Regions from separate parts of the Homo sapiens genome. Here region 1 is linked to region 2. The links come from fine-mapping of genetic effects on gene expression. Tissue or cell type: gastroesophageal junction. Region 2 holds a variant in brackets; the other region holds the start of a gene. All regions are shown on one strand. Distances are from middle to middle.

The links. PIP is the estimated chance that this variant, and not a neighbour inherited with it, causes the effect.
Region 1: it holds the start of FARP1, and the variant in region 2 is fine-mapped to the expression of FARP1 in gastroesophageal junction (GTEx, PIP 0.90).

The regions. Positions count from the first base shown.
Region 1 is chr13:98,138,957-98,148,875 of GRCh38, forward strand. It overlaps FARP1 (FERM, ARH/RhoGEF and pleckstrin domain protein 1), which reads left to right and starts at 4,138. Exons shown (of 27, transcript NM_005766.4): 1 at 4,138-4,536. It overlaps LOC105370328 (a long non-coding RNA gene), which reads right to left and starts at 4,954. Exons shown (of 3, transcript XR_931670.4): 1 at 4,883-4,954. RefSeq lists silencers at 3,589-3,638, 3,879-4,188.
Region 2 is chr13:98,178,103-98,188,021 of GRCh38, forward strand. All of the region lies in intron 1 of FARP1 (FERM, ARH/RhoGEF and pleckstrin domain protein 1), which reads left to right. Among named protein-coding and RNA genes, the nearest start is that of RNF113B, 5.8 kb to the left of the region's middle. The variant C/T (reference allele first, on the strand shown) is at 4,437.

The DNA.
Region 1 (9,919 bases), 39 kb before region 2:
CACGCCTGTAATCCCAGCACTTTGGGAGGCTGAGGCGGGTGGATCACGAGGTCAGGAGTTCAAGACCAGCCTGGCCAAGATGGTGAAACCCCGTCTCTACTAAAAATACAAAAATTAGCCGGGTGTGGTGGCACGCGCCTGTAATCCCAGCTACTCAGGAGGCTGAGGCAGAGAATTGCTTAAATCCAGGAGGCAGAGGTTGCAGTGAGCCGAGATTGCACCACTGCACTCCAGCCTGGACGACAGAGTGAGACTCCGTCTAAAAAAAAAAAAAGTTACAGTGCTCTGTGACCTAATCACAGAAGTGACACTGCCTTCCTTTTCTGTATTCTATCCATTAGCAGCGAGTCACTAGGTCACACTCAAGGCAGGGGGATTACACAGAATGAGCCCACCACAAATGCTACAAGCAGATCTCTTTCCGCCTTGGGTTTTAATACAGGCTGCCTCAGTTACTGTCAGTGCATACTGTCACGTCCAGAGAGCATCATCACCCTAAACCCAGGTTCTCCGAAAGGTGATGTGTTGAAGGGGAGGGAACTATGGAATAAAAAGTTGTGTTTCACTGTGACGTGTGATCTCTTAATATGAAAGATTTGCTTGCCCCCACACACTTTTGTATATGAGCAGAAAATTCCTGAAAGACTGTAAAAACTGTTGGGAAAATTATTTCTAAGAAGCGAGATTAGGGATGCAGGAAGGGTTCCTTCTAGGTTTCACTTCATACTCTTCTATACTGCTTAATTTTATCTTGACATGTACACACGTTTTACAGTAAAACAGTTAAAATTAATAAGAGGAATTGTTAAGCACAGGGTGATTCCTTAATCCAGAAAGATTTCTAAATAACCCATGCCACAGCTTGGGATAAAAGGGGGATCTAGGGGGATTATACATTTTTATATTCTGAAAGTTAAGCATAAATGACACACAATGACAAGGAAACGCCTAAGTTTTTCAGAAGTTGATTTTCCAGGTTCAGGATTTTCGAGGCCAGGTACCCCTGGCTTTTCAGGGAGAGGAATTTAAAAAGTGCTTTCTGGCCAGGCACGATGGCCTTATGCCTGTAATCCCAGAACTTTGGAAGGCCAAGGCAGGGGGATCACTTGAGCCTAGGAGTTCGAGGCTGCAGTGAGCTATGTTTGTGCCACTGCACTCCAGCCTGGGCAACAGAGCGAGACTCCTTTTTTTTTCTTTCTTGAGACGGAGTCTCGCTCTGTCGCCCGGGTTGGAATGCAGTGGTGTGGTCTCGGCTCACTGCACGCTCTGCCTCCCGGGTTCACGCCATTCTCCTGCCTCAGCCTCCCAAGTAGATAGGACTACAGGCGCCGGCCACCATGCCTGGCTAATTTTTTGTATTTTTAGTAGAGACGGGGTTTCACCGTGTTAGCCAGGATGGTCTTGATCTCCTGACCTCGTGATCTGCCTGCCTTGGCCTCCCAAAGTGCTGGGATTACAGGCTTGAGCCACAGCGCCCAGCCAAGACCCTCTCTTAAAAGAAACAGTACTTTCTATCAGGTTAGGTACCAACCGCGGAATGTTGGTGAGAGCTGGGAGGAAACGTAGGAAGTTCTCTAGTGTGACCCCACCGCTTTACAGCCTCTCTAACTAGATTCCCAGAACTGCCCCTTCTCCCCTCTCTTTTCCCCCATTAACTCTCTCCCCATGGGCTCCTGCCCTCAGCCTGCAAACCTCAGAACGGCTCCTTTAAAAGTCACCTTCACAAATGTTGATAATGTTGAGATAAGGCAACATGGGATATTATGTATTATCATATTGATTAATATGATCAATATATTATGTGTTATGATCATAAATAGTTTTAAGATCACAACTAAATCTAATTCTAGACATACAAAGACTATGAAAGAAATGCTGTAACATGTAGAAAATGTCGGTCTTGCAAAGAGAGTGACTGGGAAAATGTCACTTTTCTAATTTTCTGCGCTTTCTATGATTTTTTGCTTTTATTATTTTTATGATTTTTTTTTTGAGATGGAGTCTCACTTTGTTGCCCAGGCTGGAGTGCAATGGCACGATCTCGGCTCACTGCAACCTCTGCCTCCCGGGTTCAAGCAATTCTCATGCCTCAGCCTCCCGAGTAGCTGGGATTGCAGGCGCGCACCACCACGCCCAGCTAATTTTTGTATTTTCAGTAGAGACGAGGTTTCCCCATGCTGGCCAGGCTGGTTTACAAGTTCCTGACCTCAGGTGATCCACCTGCCTCAGCCTCCCAAAGTATTGGGATTACAGGAGTGAGCCACCGCGCCCGGCCTAATTTTTTCCTTTTAGTTGGGAGGTATGACATAGCACTTTGCTACTACGTGTAGTCCTTGGACCAGCAAGTAACACCTGAGAGCTTGTTAGAAACAGTCTCAGACTTACTGAATCAGAATCTGCATTCCAACAAGATTCCCTGGTGATTCAGGTATACACTAGAGTTTAAAAAGCCGCCTACAGCAACTGTTCTCAAACCTGGCTACACACTGGAATCACCTGCGGAACTTTACTGATGCCTGGGTTAGAATCTTTATATATTTGGCTGGGGTGCAACCAGGGTGTTGTTTTTTAATCGCAGATGATTCCATGAGTTTGAGACCCACTGTCCTAACACTGTGATCCTCCAAGTGTGATCCCAGGACCAGAGCAACATCACTATCTGGGAATTTGTTAGAAATGCAAACTCTCAGGCCCCACCCCAAACCTACTGAATCGGCAGCTCTGGGGATGGAGCCTGACAGTCCTTTATCCCTGCAGGCGATTCAGATGCTTGCTAAGGTTTCATTAGGTAGGTCGGGGATGCGGCCCAAGAATGTTCATTTCTTGACGTTTCCAGGGGCTGCTGGTGGTGGTCGTGGTCTGAGAACCACACTTAGAGAATCACGAGCAGAAAAAAATCTGATCTGTGACACACAGCTGGTTGGGCTGACAGAGCAAAGCCTCAAACCCACCATTTCTTCTCTTCAACCACAGACCACCAAATCTGCAAGTATTACATCTCTGCTCCTCCCCAGGAGCTGCCCACAAGCACCCCCTACTTCCAAGACCCCTGTTCTTGTCTCAACCCGCCCTTCTATCAGGGTCCCTACACTCCACTTCTGCCCAGCTCCTGTCCAGCTGTGAGTTCACTTGAGGCCTCTCCCGTGAAATCTGCCCTCTCGGTCTGAGGTCAGGGAACTCCTGTAAGACGCAAAAGGCCCACGGTTCTGAGCCAGTGGCCTCCGAAGGCCGGAATCCGCTAGCCCCGGGTCTGGCAGAACGTCACTTGCTGCGCCCTAGGCCTCTTCCCGCCACGCTTAGAGAGAGGGACTGGAGGCTCAGAAGGGGGAAGAGAAGGTAACGCGGCAGCTGCTGGGTGGGGACGGTGACTGTGCCCCTAGATCGCTGCCTCCTGGGTCCTGAATCTTGCTCCCCGCTCCGTAGAGTTCCCGAAACCCCGAAGGCTCTCAAGCACCGCAAGCCACTCCTAACCTCCCCCACGCCATTCCCCAAGGGCACTGTCCCCCGAGGCTGGGCGGGCGGGAACTGTCATGGGATTCGCTCGGGCGGAGGGCGCTGGGCCAGGACGTGGGCGGGCGCGGGGTGGCCGCCGCTCCCCCAAGCTTAAGTCCCGCGCAGCCCGGGGTGGTGCCGGAAGCCCGTGCCTGTGGCTCCGGGGGAGGGGAGGGCTCGGTGGGTCCCTGAAGACTGTCCTCCCCGCGCGACGTCGCAGGCGAAGCAGCCCCAGGCAGGACCTCAAAAAGCGACCTGCAGAGTCCGAGCCCCTGACCGCCCGCCTGCCGCTCCCGGCTTCGCCGTGCACACGTCTCCCGCTCTCCCCGGTTCGTTTTTCGCCACAGCTGCTGGATTCGCGTCTCGCCAGTGGCGCTCCCCGCGCTGCATTAGGTAGCGCCGCGCGGAGCCCGGCCCTGGCCGGAAGCCCAAGAGAGGCGCAGATCCCCGGCGGCGCGCTGGGCTCGGGAGGCCCCTGGGCGCACCTGCCCGGGCGGAGCGGAGCGGGGCGGGGCGGGCGCAGGGCGCGGGCCCGGACGCTGGAGGGGGCTGTGGCTCTCCCGCGTCCCCGCTGCTCGGGCTGCGCGGCGCCCGCCTCCCCCCGCCGAGGGGCCGGCCCAGACCCGGGGAGGGGCGGTGGCCACTGCACTTCCCGCTCGCCGGCCTCAGAGGCGGCGGGTCCGGCGCGGGCGCAGCGGTGCGGGCGCTCGGCTGGGGCGCGGGGCGGGGACGCGGCCGCTGCCCGCTTTGCGCCGCTCCTCCCTGCGCGAGTAGCGCTGGCCCCGGCGTCGAGGCGGCCATGGCGACCCGGAGCCCGCTCCCCACCCACCCCGCCTGCTCCGCCCTCCCCTCCGCCCCGCGCCACCTTTGATGGCTCGGACCTCAGCCGGCCACCGCCAGCCCTGCTCGCGCGCCCGCGCCGCCGCCGCCCGCGGGTATTAATAGCCGGCGCCGCCGCGCCCTCGGCCGCCGGGGGCTTGGGAGCCGCCGATCCCGGAGCCCGAGCCGGGAGAGGGAGCCGCCGCAGCCGCCGGCGCTGTGGAGGTAGGAGGCGCGCGGTGAACAATGACCGCGGCGGGAGGGCGGGGGCCGGCGGGGTCCGGGCCGCGGGCGGCAACTTGTGCGAGTCCAGGCTCCCGCAGCGCACGGCCGCGGCTGCGGGCGAAGGTGGGCGCGTGGTCCCCGAGGTCCTGCCCTGCGCAGTCGGGCGGCGGGTCGGGCCCGGGCAGCCCCGGCCACCATCGCAGGAGCTCGGGGGCCTCGGGGCTCCGGGCTGCCCCCTGCGCCCCTCTCCCCTCACCTCCGCCGACGTCGGGCTGCGGGGCTCCGCGCCGGTCCCCGCTCGCCTCCCCCGACCCCGGCGCCCTTCCCCCGTTTCCTTCCGTCCTACCCGCCCGCTGACAGCGCTGGACGCCGCTTCCGGACCTCGGGCCGCAATCTCGGCCCCTGAGGCCGGTTGCGGGCCGGGGAGGTGGCCGCTGGCGCGGATGCCGCCGGGTGCCCGCCGCTCGCCCACGCGCGGCGCGAGGGTTCCCGGCGGGTGACAAAGAGGAACACACCCTCTGCCCAAGTTAGATTTGTGTCTCTCTTTACTGTCTGCCTTTATGCAGGGCAAAGTTTTTTTTATTTTTTATTTTTTAAAGCAAAGGACAGATTGCTTTGCGGCGAGTATTTCCAAACAACTTCTGATTGTGGTTTTACGATTCAAGTTCCGGAAACTTTAGCTGTGTGATCCGGCTGGACCCCGGAGACTCTGTGTGTGTGTGTGTGTGTGTGTGTTTTATTTGAGGGGGGGAAATACGAATTCCCTGTAATGAGTCTGGATCTCGTTTGTGGCAGCTGGAGGCCAGCGGCTGTTGGGGATCGAGTAGGGTTCCCCAGAAAGGAGGGAGCTGAGGCTCACAAAGAAGCGAGGCCCTGGTATCTGATCAGTTCGTGGAGACGTGGGAGAGCCTGCTTGTCATCTGGAACAGTTTAGCAGCCTCGGCCTCCCTGTCTCTCCCAGCCCTGGGGAGTACCGGTGGCCTCTGGCCGTTTCATTATATTGTTGTTAAGGCTCTTCTCCTTGTCAGTTTACCAGGTTTGACCGCCCAGCCCTGGTCTCTGCGTGGAAACCCCCGGGGGCCCCTCTCCTTCCAGTAGGCAACATCTTCAGAGCCAAACCCTGGCCTAGCACTGGCTTCTGTTTAATGTGCTTTGCACGTGGTGACTTGCGGAGCCCATTTCAGAACATCCTCCAGCATTGTCTTGCTTTTCTTATTCAGTCTGAACAAGGAGAGGAGAAAGAAACATCTTTCTGGTCCTGAAAGCTTTAGGGAGAGTTGCCTTAAAAATTGGCTTCGTTGTTCCGGAGACTTTAGGAGGGCCCTGCTTCATCCTATCTTTGGCTTTCTCCCTCCTTCCACAGTGTTCTCGTAGGGGGTTTATTCTCAGTCTTTCGGATGGGTTGGTCTCCAGGATGTGACAGTTTCTGACAGTGTGCTTCATAAGTGGGTACAGCTAGCACATGGCTCACTTTATATTCCTGCAGCATCGTTCTGCAGCAAGGCATCAATATTGGAGTTACTCCAAGCACAACGAAGCGTTTGTGTTTTTAGAATGTCTGGCTAATAGATCTGCTTCTGGGTAAAATAAATAGAAGCATTATTGGGCAATGGCTGCTTTACTGAGGGAATTGTTGGTGGAGACAGTGAGTAGATGCCTTCCTAGCCCAGCGCCTCCCAGAATCTCTTACTTGTTTCTTTTATGTGAATGGGAAACTGGAAACCCTCGGTGTGGAGGTGGCTGTGCCTCCTAGGGGCAGATTCTATGGTGCACCACCCCGCCCCCGTTACTTGGGGTGTGGTGTTTCATTGAGAAGTTCTGTCACTGTGGGAATCCTTTTGAAGCGTGGTTTCTAATGCCCCCTTTCACATTGATATTCTCTTCCTTTAATTGATACAGGGATGGATTTATTCCTTGCTTCATAATAGAATGTTAACTTTACTCTGTAGCCAGACTTATCAAAGAAGATCTTAAAATAATTATCCTGGACAAGTTTCTTACTGGGTTATTGCATTCACCTCAGAATTATCCAGAGTTTACAAGGAACCTGGAGGAACGTTTTTGTTTCACTTTTCGTTAAAGAAACTGTCCAAGGGGGCTGGGCATGGTGGCTCACACCTGTAATCCCAGCACTTTGGGAGACCGAGGCGGATCACTTGAGATCAGGATTTCCCAGCCTGGCTAATATGGTGAAACCCTGTCTCTACTAAAAATACAAAAATTAGCCAGGGGTGGTAGCAGGTGCCTGTAATCCCAGCTGCTCAGAGGCTAAGCCAGGAGAATCGCCTGAACCCAGGAGGCGGAGGTTGTAGTGAGTTGAGATTGGGCCACTGCACTCCAGCCTGGGCAACAGAGTGAGACTCTGTCTCAAAAAAAAAAAAAAAAAAGAGAAAAAAGGAACTGCCCAAGGAAATTGTTTTGTTTTGTTTTTTGGTTAAAGATACAAATAAGATAGCATTGAAAGGGTTAGTTTTTTTTAAACAGTGAAGCTTATACTCATTTAATTTATTGAACACCTAAGAGCTTAATTCATTTGGAAAATTGTATATATTTATGAGGAGGATGCTTGTGATAAACATCAGAAAAAAACAACTCTTTTCATCCTGGACGGGATTAGAGAATACTAGAGAAAGGATAAAAGGCTGGTTTCTGCAGGCAGAATATGCTTAGGAAAAATGGCATTGTGATTTTCCCAGAGGATAAGAGAAATTCTGTGGATTTGTAAGTACTGTACTTGCCTGATTTTTTTTTTTGAGATGGAGTTTTGCTCTTGTTTCCCAGGCTGGAGTGCAATGGCGCAATCTCGGCTCACTGAAACCTCTGCCTCCCAGGTTCAAGCGATTCTCCTGCCTCAGCCTCCCCAGTAGCTGGGATTACAGGCATTTGCCGCCATGCCCAACTAATTTTCTGTTTTTAGTAGAGACGGGGTTTCTCCATGTTGGTCAGGCTGGTCTTGAACTCCTGACCTCAGGTGATTTGCCCGCTTCGGCCTCTCAAAGTGCTGGGATTACAGGCGTGAGTCACAGAGCCTGGCCTTGCCTGATGTTTTGATAGCATGGTGGACTGGACATTTTAAAGAAGCCCTTTGTAACTGGCCTTGCTTATTGCAGATAACTGCTTAGTGTTTTTGAGAAATGCACTTTCCTCACCAGCTGAAGGTGCTACAGATAAGAGGGGCAGGTATAGTCCTGTAATGCAGGTGCTAAAGTCTTTCTACTTTGGAAGGACAGGCATTCCCTGTATTGGTTACCGTTTGCCTGGGAAGGGAGGCTGTGGGGTTTTAGGCTCTCGTGGCAGTCTCTCTCCTGTTGTTTGGTGCTTTTGATTGAAAGGAGCCTCTCCAAGCCTGGCTATTGAATGGGAAGCAGCGGATCAACTTCTTTTCTTGTCTTTTAGTGTCAGAGTTTATTCTGTGGTGGTACTGGGTCACAGTCCTTTCTCTCTGTTTCACCCATGGCAACTTAGGTAGGCTGTTACCTCCTTAACCACTTCCACATGGCCAGGAAGATCAGAGCCAAACGGTTTTCATTCAAATTACTTGAAATACTGATTTCTCCAGTCCTGTTCTGCCAAATGCAGCCTTTGTTTTCAATCAAGAAGCCCCCAGAAAACGTGTATTTAAAACTGGCAAAACTTTTTATAGGATGCCCTTGCCCTGGTTTGAATTAGTTAAAAATGTTTGGCCAAGTGGATACTTTGAGCAAAAGTGGATAATGGATACATTACTAAAATATCATGCTCGAAGCTTTTGATACTAATCCGGCGAGACTGAAACTGAGGCATGCTCAGTGCTGCCTGCAAACTGTTAACTCAGATTTTAAGTTTTCTTAGTTTAATGTGGGATGGAAATTATGAACTTCAAGACTTGCAATTAATGTGGGAATTCATCATTTACACTGAATGAATTTCATATGTAAAACTGTCATATTTGTTCACACATTAAAAAAAAGAAGAGCCTCAGGCCACACTAGACTGCCTTTAACTCTCAATTATGATAATAACCTCTGACCACAAGAGTAACTTCACTTTATGTGCAGACTTTTGACGAAATGCTTTGCATAAATTTATTATCAATTAGAAGACTTAAAAATCCAGTATTATGATGACTTTCAGTTTTTGTTCTTGTTCATTCAGGATCTAGTATAGTATCTGAATATAGCAAACCCTTGGTAAATTATTGTGTTCTGTTTTCTTTTTGAAAAAAACTCGAGGCTGGAGTGCAGTGGTGATCATGGCTCATTGCAGCCTTGACCTCTTGGGCTCAAGCAATCCTTTCATCTCAGTCTCCCGAGTAGCTGTGACTACAGACACATGCCATCACGCCCAGCTAATTTTTTCTTTAAAAAAATTTTTCTTAGAGAGTCTCACCGCTATGTTGCCCAGTCTGGTAAATCCTTGTTGAATGAATAATAAATCCAGTTTTTACCATCCCTTCAAATTAGTCTTTAGGGTTTTTAAAGGAAACTTGTTATTAGAATTGATAGATTGCAGTTCTGGCAGTTTGATATTTGATTTTGTTTTCATTTCATTCTAATTTAGCAATTGAATCCTTAAAGCTAAGTCAGATTGTAAAAAGACAGAGGTTCCTTTTCAAAAAAAAAGACAATAAGGTGCGGTGGCTCACGCCTGTAACCCCAGCACTTAGGGAGGCCAAGGCGGGCGAATCATCTGAGGTCAGGAGTTCAAGACCAGCCTGACCAACATGGAGAAACCCCGTCTCTACTAAAAATACAAAATTAGCCAGGCGTGGTGGCGCGTGACTGTAATCCCAGCTACTCGGGAGGCTGAGGCAGGAGAATCGCTGGAACCCGGGAGGCGGAGGTTGTGGTGAGCTGAGATTACGCCATTGTACTCCAGCCTGGGCAACAAAAGTGAAACTCCGTTTCAAGAAAACACAAGACAATAAAAGCATGAAGAAGAAAATAAAACAAACTTGAAATCCTGCCACCTGTTACTGACTCCTACCTTAGCATTTTGGGATCTGTTCTTTTATATAGCCTTCTCATTTCTTAACCTGCGCCAAATTTGACATTCTAATTGTTTTATATGGTACTTGTCTGTAAATTTAATGTGCTCACCATTCCTTTTTGTACTTTGAAGCTTGCTTCTGGGATACATTTTCCTTCTTCCTGAGACACATCTTCTAGAAATTCTGTTAGCATCTGTTGGTGGTAACTTCAGTTTCTGCATGTCTTAGATACCTTTGTTCTTGAATGGTAAGTTTATCTGGGTGTGCAATTCTGTATTGTTCCTGTATTAATCAGCTGTGTTCTGGTCCCATTGCTGTTGCTGTCTAATTATTTGTAACTAGTCTGCCTTTTCTCTCTGGCTACTTTTAAGATGCTTTGGTGTTCTGCAGTCTGGCTATGACATGTCTAGGTAT
Region 2 (9,919 bases):
TCAAGCACTTATTGTAATGGAAATTGGCTGTCCCCTGCCTGGCCCCTCCACACGCCAATTCCTGGTACCTAAGATAATCATTTTTAATTTTTTTTTTTTTTTTTTTTTTTTGAGAAAGAGTCTCGCTCTGTCGCCCAGGCTGGAGTGCAGTTACATGATCCCGGCTCACTGCAACCTCTGCCTCCCGGGTTCAAGCAATTCTCCTGCCTCAGCCTCCTGAGTAGCTGGGATTACAGGTGTGTGCCACCACACCCAGCTAACTTCTGTGTTTTTAGTAGCGACAGGGTTTCACCATGTTGGCCAGGCTGGTGTGGAACTCCTGACCTCAGGTGATCCACCCACCTTGGCCTCCTAAAATGTTGGTATTACAGGCGTGAGCCACTGCACCCCGCCTTCAAATATTTTTAACCCTTTTTTTTCTTGAGTTTATCTTCAAGTTGTGAAATAATTCATTTATATAATGTAAATGGATTCTAGTTCTTATTTAGCCAGTGCATGTCATAAAGTGTTACATGCAATTTCTTTTTCTAATTTAGGTTCTATCTCTTTACTTACTAGAATGGAAGATGAGATTCAGCTCACTTGTAGTGCCCCCAAAACACTGGCTGCTGTGGGATGAGGGAGAAGTTGTGTGGGTCTCTCTTCCTAGACACCAAGGCATCCTCAGCTGTTGGAAATGTGATGAATAAGCTTACAGTGTAAAGAACAATTCATCATTTGTCAGTTTTCTCTTAGGATAGTAATTCTAGATTTTTCTTCAACTGTTATCATCCCATCTTTCATGTTGGAAGCTTTTCTAAAATACTTGGTTATCTCCAGCTGTTTATACTTCAGAGTGAGGTGCCTAAAAGCTGGCTGGAATCCATCGGTATTGTTGGGCTTGTACACTGGACTGTCCTTTGTGTGATTCAGTTGGAACCCATCTTTTTTCTTGGAGACCCCCAGATGTTGGTGTCCATATTAGTCCGTTTTCACGCTGCTGATAAAGACACACCTGAGACTGGGTAATTTACAAAAGAAAAAGGCTTAATGGACTTACATTTCCATGTGGCTAGGGAGGTCTCACAATCCATGGTAGAAGGTGAAAGGCATGTCTCGCATGGCAGCAGACGAGAACAGAATGAGAACCAAGTGAAAGGGGTTTGCCCTTATAAAACCATCAGATCTCATGGGATTTATTCACTACCACAAGAACAGTATGGGGGAAACTGCCCCCATGATTCAGTTATCTCTGGTAACTGGGTCTCTCCCACAACACAAGAGAATTTTGGGAGCTACCATTCAAGATTTGGGTGGGGACATAGCCAAACCATATCAGTGTCCATAGGTCTTTTCTGCTGGGTTCTCGAGTTTCTACAGAGAAGACTTATCTCACATTCCGCTGTGGGGTGTGATCTTTGCTGCCAGAATTCTGTGATAAGAGCTGTAGAAGTGGGCTGGGAAGGGAAGGCCTTATAATTTGGGGTATAAACTTTGACTTGGCCTGGCATGGTGGCTCACACCTATAATCCCAGCACTTTGGGAGGCTGAGGCAGGTGGATCACGAGGTCAGGAGATCGAGACCATCCTGGTCTACCCCATCTCTACTAAAAATAGAAAAAAAAATTAGCTGGGCGTGGTGGCGGGTGCCTGTAGCCCCAGCTACTCGGAAGGCTGAGGCAGGAGAATGGCGTGAACCCGGGAGGCAGAGCTTACAGTGAGCCGAGATCAAGCCACTGCACTCCAGCCTGGGTGACTGAGCAAGACTCCATCTCAAAAAAACAAAACAAAACAAAACAAAAAACTTTTGACTTAATTCCTCATTTTTAGTAAAGCATCTGATTCCCACCTTTGGTTGTTCCCGGGCCCTTTGAGCTTAGGCCCTCCTAGATTCAGCCTCCACAGAAGAGATATCTCCTGCTTCTGCCGGGCTAGGGAAAGGGTAGCCAGGCTAGGGAAAGGCTAGGGAAAGGCTGCATGGGGTGGGAGATTGTGTTAGTTTTGCATTGCTATAAAGGAATGCCTGAGGCTAGGTAATTTATAAAGAAGAGAGGATTAATTGACTTGTAATTCTGTAGGCTGTACAAGCAGCATGGCGTTGGTATCTGCTTCTGGTGATGGCCCCAGTAAACTTCCAGTTGATCACAGTGGAAGGCAAAGGGGGAGCAGGCTGTGTCACATGGCAAGAGTGGGAGTGAGAGTGGGGAGGGGCCACGTACTTCTAAACAACCAGAACAAGATCCCTGGGTGAGCACCCAGGAAATGGTGCTAAACCACTCATGAGGCATCCACCCCCATGATCCAGTCACCTCCCACCAGGCCCTACCTCCAACACTAACCACATTTCAACATGAGATTTGGAGGGGACAGACATCCAAACCGTATCAGAAAATTTTCAGATTCTCAGCCAGTCTTCTTGTGTGGAGCCATATCTGTTTCCAGTGATACTTGATTCTTGCAGTTCCTGGGATTTGTCTTGAAATTGGCATGCTGCTGCTTGTCATCTCCCTCCACAGCCTTCAGTTTCAGCCTTCTTCCAAGTTAGTTGAGATTTTTCAGCTCACTTTATTTCTTCTAAAATATTATTGATGTTCTTGTTTTCTCTGGTGTCTCTTTCTTCTGGCTCCTTTTGTGGGAATCTGCCTTTGTAAAGTAATGTTTATCATTTTAGTGGGATTTTGGGAGGGAATAGGGGTGAATGCCTGAGTGCAGTCTGCTGTGTTGAATGAGGAATGGTAGTGGGCTGTCTTCACTTGATAAGTATTTTCCCCTGTTCCTTAGTATTTCTCCATAATGTGCATTTTAATGCCTGCATAATGATCAATTGTATGAGTCTATGATGCCTTATTGTCCTAATACTCTGTTGTTAGATTATGTGTTTCCTCATTTATATACCTTTCCCTGTGTTTACATTTGTTTTCTTAGGGTTGATTCCTACAAACAGAATTACAGAGTTTAAGCATTTTTAAGTCTTTTTTTTTTTAAGACAGAATTTTGCTCTTGTTGCTTTCTGAAAGAGTTGTATTGTATGTACATCCACCAGACATGCATGAGTATGGCCGTTTCATTGCAGATAGCACTTCTCCCTGCTGGTTTAGGTCCACACATGCCTACTAAGTGAAGGAAAAAATTGGGATGAACCAAATGAACTTCAGTAATTCTGTCAGCTCACATGTTAACGTAGCTTGGCTGTCTGAGGTTACATCCTGGCGCTGTGACCGACAGCAAATGACCTAACTGCCCTGGATTTCAGTTTTATCCCCTGCAAAGTGGGGTATAAGAGGAAGAATAATAAGTGAATAGACTTAAGTTTAGATTTTTGCCTGGCTGGCAGCGATGGAGAAGAGCAAAACCAATAAAGTCAGTTTCTTAGGTAGTAATGAAAAGATTGTTCTTTATTATTAAAAAGTGACTTGTTTGGGAAGAAGTGATACATTCTCATTATAAAAAAAATACAAAAAAGTAAAAAGAAGAAATGAAAAACCTCACCCTAAATCTTACCATTTAGAAATAATATTATTTATTTATTTATTTATTTATTTATTTATTTATTTATTTATTTGAGAGAGAGAGAGAGAGAGTCTCACTGTTGCCCAGGGGTGTGTGGCGCAATCACAGTTCAGTGTAACCTCAAACTCCTAGGCTCAAGCGATCCTCCTGCCTTGGCCTCCCAAAGTGCTGGGATTATAGACATGAGCCACTGTGCCTGGCCAATGATGTTGGTAACATTTTTTGAGCCCTGTCTAGAACTTGCCATGGTCATGGGGTCTTATCACACATGGTATTTAATACTTAAAGATGTAAAATAAAATAGACTTGAATTAAAGCAAAGGAAAAGAAACTAAAGCAAGATAGAAATGCTGACTTCATTGCAAGAGAGATTAGCGCTATCTTTTAGAAACTAAATTTATGACAAGATGATAAATAATAAATACTAAGAGATTAGAATAATTTCTTATAAACTATGAGTTTGTGAGACTCTCTCCTTTGAAAGCTAAAAAAAAAATAGAACTGACCTATGCTCCCCCTCTTTCCCAAGCTCCAAAATTTTATCAGTTAATTATGAATTTTACAGTGTGAAGGATTGTAACATTTCTATTCTAATAATGCCACAATTCCCATAGCTCTTTGACTTAGTCCCCTTTTAGGATGGATTCAGAACTTGTTAGTCTTTTTACTGTTTTTTTTTACCTTGCTTGAGTTTTAAATTTTGACTCATTGGTTGGTTCATTGTTTTATTTATTTAATCGATTTTATTTTTTGAGACAGGATCTTGCCCTGTCGCCCAGGCTGGAGTGCAGTGGTGCCATCATGGCTCACTGCTGCCTCACCCTCCTGGACTCAAGTGATCCTCCTATCTCAGCCTCCTGAGTAGCTGGGACTTACAGGCACACGCCCCCACACCTGGCTGATTTTTGTATTTTTTGTAGAGACTGAGTCTCGCCATATTGCCCAGG[C/T]TGGTCTCAAACTCCCGGGCTTTAGTGATCTACCTGCCTTGGCCTTCCAAAGTGCTGGGATTACAGGGGTAAACCCAGTGTGGCCGCATCCAGCCACATTATTTTATTTAGAGAAGCCCTGGTAGGTACTGTGTTCCTTGAGGTCTTAACACTTAAGGATAGCTGTTCCTTGCTTTTATATTTGAAGGACAATTTGGCCGAGTACCAAGGTCTTGGGCCACACGTTCTTGCCCTCAGAATTTCTTAGACATTGCTCCCATTCTTTTTTAGCACTGGATATTTCTGGAAGAGAAAGCTGAGGCTGGGTTAATGTTTCTTTCTTTTGCACATGACTAGCTTTTTCCATTGGATGTGCCCATGAGGTTCTCTGATTCTTTTTGAAGTTTAGAGTTTTACCAGCATTGCTTGGGCATTGGCTGTTTTATGTCACTTTCCTGGTATGTCCTATACCATAATATCTGTTGATTCAAGTCTGTCTTTATATCAGTAAAATTTTAAGATCCTTTAATATTTTTGCATATATTTTGAATGGTGCTCACTTTTTGGGAACCATAGTTGTTAGGTTTTATCTTCTTTGCCTTCTAAATCTAGCATCTATTCTTATTATCATTTGTGTATCTTTGTCCCTCTTGTTGTTCCTTTTTAGTAATTTTGAGTGATTTCCTTGTTTGTTCTCTGCCTCTGTTTACAGAAGCTTACACTATGTTTTACTGTAGTTGTGTGGCTTCCATTCTGGATATTTTTTTTTCTAGTCCATTTATTTCTTCAACTCTATCAGTCCATTTAAAATCTCTTAGATTGATGACTGTCAGTTCTTTGGAACTTCATATCTAGTCTCTGAGCTCCCCATTTTTAGAAGGACCATTTTATCTTTAATATTTTTGAGACAATGGAGGACTATTTTTTCTGAGCTCTTAGTCTGTTACCTTCGTTTTTCAGGCCCAGATTCCTGGGCATGGGACCTCTGCATCCACTTAAGGGTCCACGCTTGGACGAATGCTCCCGTCATTGTCTTGAAATTGTTAATAATTTCTGAACAGCGGGCACTGCATTTTTGTTATGCAGCAGCTTCTGTTGATTATTTTTACAAACGCACCTTATTAGCTGCCTTTGCCTGTGTTCTTATTCAGTGGTCGCTCATCTTTGAATGAGGCCGAGCTGTTTGCCGCAAAAACTGGTGTGGGGTATGCTGAGGACTGGAAGGCAGGGGTGGGGAGTGTTGTGAAACCTGCTCATACTCGCTGCCTCCACTGTCCTCCAAACAATTGTTATTTCTTTTACCTTGAGAATGATCCTCCTTCGGTTTTTGGCTTTTAGGAGGCTTGTGTGTCTCTCTCACAGCCAGTCCCCTTAGCGCCCTGGCTCTCTGAGGCTTGACATATGGTGGGCATGGCGGTTGTTCCCCCAGGCCCTTTCTTCACCCTCACTTTCCTTGTTAATCCAGGCCAGGTCATAGGTATTAAAAATGACATCCACATGGTTTCTCCTTCAGTTCCACCTTCCCAGTTAGATTTTAACTTTTAAAATACTTGAGAAGGGAGAGCAGTGTCAGACTCAAAAAGCCAGCAAGCATTGTTTTTTGTTTGTTTTTTTTTGAGATGGAGTTTTCACTCTTGTTGCCCAGGCCGGAGAGTGGTGGTGAGATCTCGGCTCACTGCAACCTCTGCCTTCTGGGTTCAAGCGATTCTCCTGCCTCAGCCTCCCAAGAAGCTGGGATTGTAGGCGCCTGCCACCCCACCCGGCTAATTTTTGTATTTTTAGTAGAGATGGGGTTTCACCGTGTTGGCCAGGCTGCTTTCGAACTCGTGACTTCAGGTGATCCACCTGCCTCCCAAAGTGCTGGGATTACAGGCATGAGCCACCACGCCCGGCTGCCTTTTAATGTGTCATTTTAATGTGTCATTTTAAAGTTCTGTGCTAATAAGGATGTAGGAGGTTATTTGATTTTTGGAAAATTGTTCATACTATATTAACATGTAAAGGTGCTTTATGAAACAGTATGTGGAGTGTGATTCACCTGTTGTTGCTTCTTAAGGAAGTACGACTCTACATTAAAAAATATTTGAAGGGAAAAAAATACCAAAATGCGATTGCCTGGATTCCTAATGTCCATCCTGCTTCCGCCTTTGGTGATGGTGTATAGCAGTGGCCAACTCCACAGCCTTTACATTTTCTCAGTGATCCTATGCTCTAAGAATTTGTGAGGGACTTGTTTTTAAAAAGATTGTTTCTAGTACCGTGTCTACTCTCTTTTGTGGATTAAAATAAATTCATTCTGATGTTTTTGGCAAATACTTCAAGTGTATTTTAAAATACATAATTTTATTGACAAGATACTTTGAACAGGGAAGAACCAGTTTCACAACCAGCTCTCTTGAAAAACAAAAACAAAACTCTAATTCATAGAGTTTGCCAGTTTCCGTGGTGTAAATATTTCCACCATGGCCAGTTGCAGGCTACCAACATGACATCATTGCACACAGAGTTAGGAAAAAGTGTGTGGTAGCACATTCCTATGTAGTATTGTTACCATCCAGATGCAGCAGGCAAAATAACCTCACAATCACAGATAGATAAAAGTAAAATGTAAAATAATTGGGAAGTGATGATTTTTGAGTATTCATTACTTCTGTAAAATTTATGCTTAATAAATATTGATATAATTTATTTTAATCCATATCTTTATATAATAACTGGCTGGTAAAAATTCCTGAAAATTTAACAGCAGGTCCCCATGAGTTGATACAAAAGCAGTATACCGCTGGAAAGAGCCCTTGAATTTTTAGAAAGGGCTTAACAGGGCAAGTCAAGAAAGTGAAGCATGCAGGCGTTGGGATTGGTAAGATAAAGCTCTCTATGGTTGGTTCAGGTGTCGTTTTGTCCTAGATCTTTATGTTGGGGGGGCTTCCTTTTCTGTTTAAGGTTCCTCGTGATCAGAACACCCATAGAAAACTTGGGGAGATAAGCAAGTGCTCTGCTCTTTAGTATGTAATTTTCTTGGCATTCGAAATGGGATGCTACCTTTCTTGATACCATTCCTGGGAAGCAGCATAGGTTCCTTTAGAAACCTTTTAACACATACCAGGTGATTTTGATTCTGATAATTAGTTTTTTTTTTTTTTGGCTGTGGTGGTAAAATATGCATAAAATTTGATGGGTTTGTTTGTTTGTTTTTTTGAGATGGAGTCTCTCTCTGTCGCCCAGGCTGGAATGCAGTGGCACGATCTCAGCTCACTGCAACCTCCGCCTCCTGGGTTCAAGCAGTTTTCCTGCCTCAGCCTCCCAAGTAGCTGGGATTATAGGTGCGTGCCACCATGCCCGGCTAATTTTTGTAATTTTAGTAGAGACAGGGTTTTTCCATGTTGACTAGGCTGGTCTCGAACTCCTGACCTCAGGTGATCCGCCTGCCTCGGCCTCCCAAAGTGCTGAGATTATAGGCGTGAGCCACCGCGTCCGGCCACATTTACTGTTTTGATCATTTTCAAGCATGCAGCACAGTGGTATTCAGTGCACTCACATTATTGTGCCACCATCACCATCATCTATCTGCAGAACGTTTTCTTTTTCTTTTCTTTTTTTTTGAAACGGAGTTTCGCTCTTGTTGCCCAGGCTGGCTGGAGTGCAATGGCACGATCTTGGCTCACCGCAACCTCTGCCTCCCTGGTTCAAGCGATTCTCCTGCCTCAGCCTCCTGAGTAGCTGGGATTACAGGCATGAGCCACCACGCCTGGCTAACTTTTTGTATTTTTAGTAGAGATGGGGTTTCTCCATGTTGATCAGGCTGATCTTGAACTCCCAACTTCAGGTGATCCACCCACCTCGACCTCCCAAAGTGCTGGGATTACAGATGTGAGCCACCGCGCCTGGCGCTCCAGAACATTTTCCATCTTTCTTCTCTCTCTCCCCTGCCCCTGGTAACTCTTCTACTTTCTGTCTGTCTGAATTTCCCTGTTCTGGATATCTCATGTAAGGAGCATCATACAGTAGTCATCCTTTTGTGACTGGCTAATTTCACTTAGCATAATCTCTTCGTGCTTCATGTTGTAGCATGCGTCAGAATTTCCTTCTTTTTAAAGGCTGCGTAATAATCCATTGTATGTATATCCCATGTTTTGTTTATCCATCTATTTGTTGCTTCTACGTTTTGGCTGTTGTGAATAAAGATGATATGGGCCGGGCGTGGTGGCTCACACCTGTAATCCCAGCACTTTGGGAGGTCGAGGTGGGTGGATCAGTTGAGGTCAGGAGTTCAAGAGTAGCCTGGCCAACGTGGTGAAACTCCATCTCTACTAAAAATACAAAAATTAGCTGGGCGTGGTGGCATGTGCCTGTAATCCCAGCTACTCAGGAGGCTGAGGCGTAAGAATTGCTTGAACCCAGGAGTTAGAGGTTGCAGTGAGCCAAGATCGCGCCACTGCACTCTAGCCTGGGAGATGGAGCGAGATTCTGTCTCAAAAAAAAAAAAAAAAAAAAAAAAAAAGCCATTAACGTGCACATACAGATATATGTGTTCAAATCCCTCCTTCCATTTCTTTTGAGTTTATACCCAGAAGTGGAATCACTGTATCGTATGGCAATTCTATATTTAATTTTTTGAGGAATTGCCATTCCATTTTCTACAGCTCATTCATTATTTTTTGACCTGGAAACTAATGTATCTTTCCAAAATGATTGCACTGACTTATGTCCCTTCCCTTGCAGGTAGAATGTCTTTCTGTGAGCCTCCTCTTTGGTGATGGTGTTCTTTCAACATATCTCATATTTGAATGTTTACACTGTAATGTGATAGCCCAATTAAGAGTGGAGATGCTGTCACATAAGGCACCGTATGATAAGTGTCAGAAGAGAAACACAAGATGCTTTGAGCTCCCAAATAGAGGGGAATGGAAAAAGTTTCATGGCATTTGAGATAATCTTTGATAAAGGAGCAGAATGTTGGCAGGTGGAGATGTGGGGGAGGAGGATCCAGGCAGTGGTAAGGAAGGGGGCTCTGTGTCCTGGGGAGAAATAGAGAAAGTCTTGGAAAGTAAGTTCATGTCACCTTACAGGGCCTTGAATGTCAGGCGAAATAACTTATTCAACTTCGTAGGTGATGAGAGCTGTGGAAGGCTTTGAGCAGGAGAGCAACATGGTTATAGCTGAGTGGAAATCATTTGAGTCCAGAAGTTGCTGGATTACCATATGGAGCTGGAGACTATAGCTGCAGAAATCGTGTGGCTGTTGAAATAATCTAGTGGAGAGGGCTGTTGGGGACATGTACAGTTAGTTATCTTATTTTCATTTTCCTCCTGTTGATGTAATTTCTGTGACCAGAGTCTTGTTCTATTTTAATCTGCAAAGCATGCTGTTCAGTATGACATGTAATAAATGTTGAACCCTCTTTGGGGAGTCAGTCAATCATGAAGACAATTATTTTGACTTGAGACAAAGAAAATGAAAGTCCTGAGGAAAAGTGTTCACATTTGCTATTTTAAGCTGGGAGA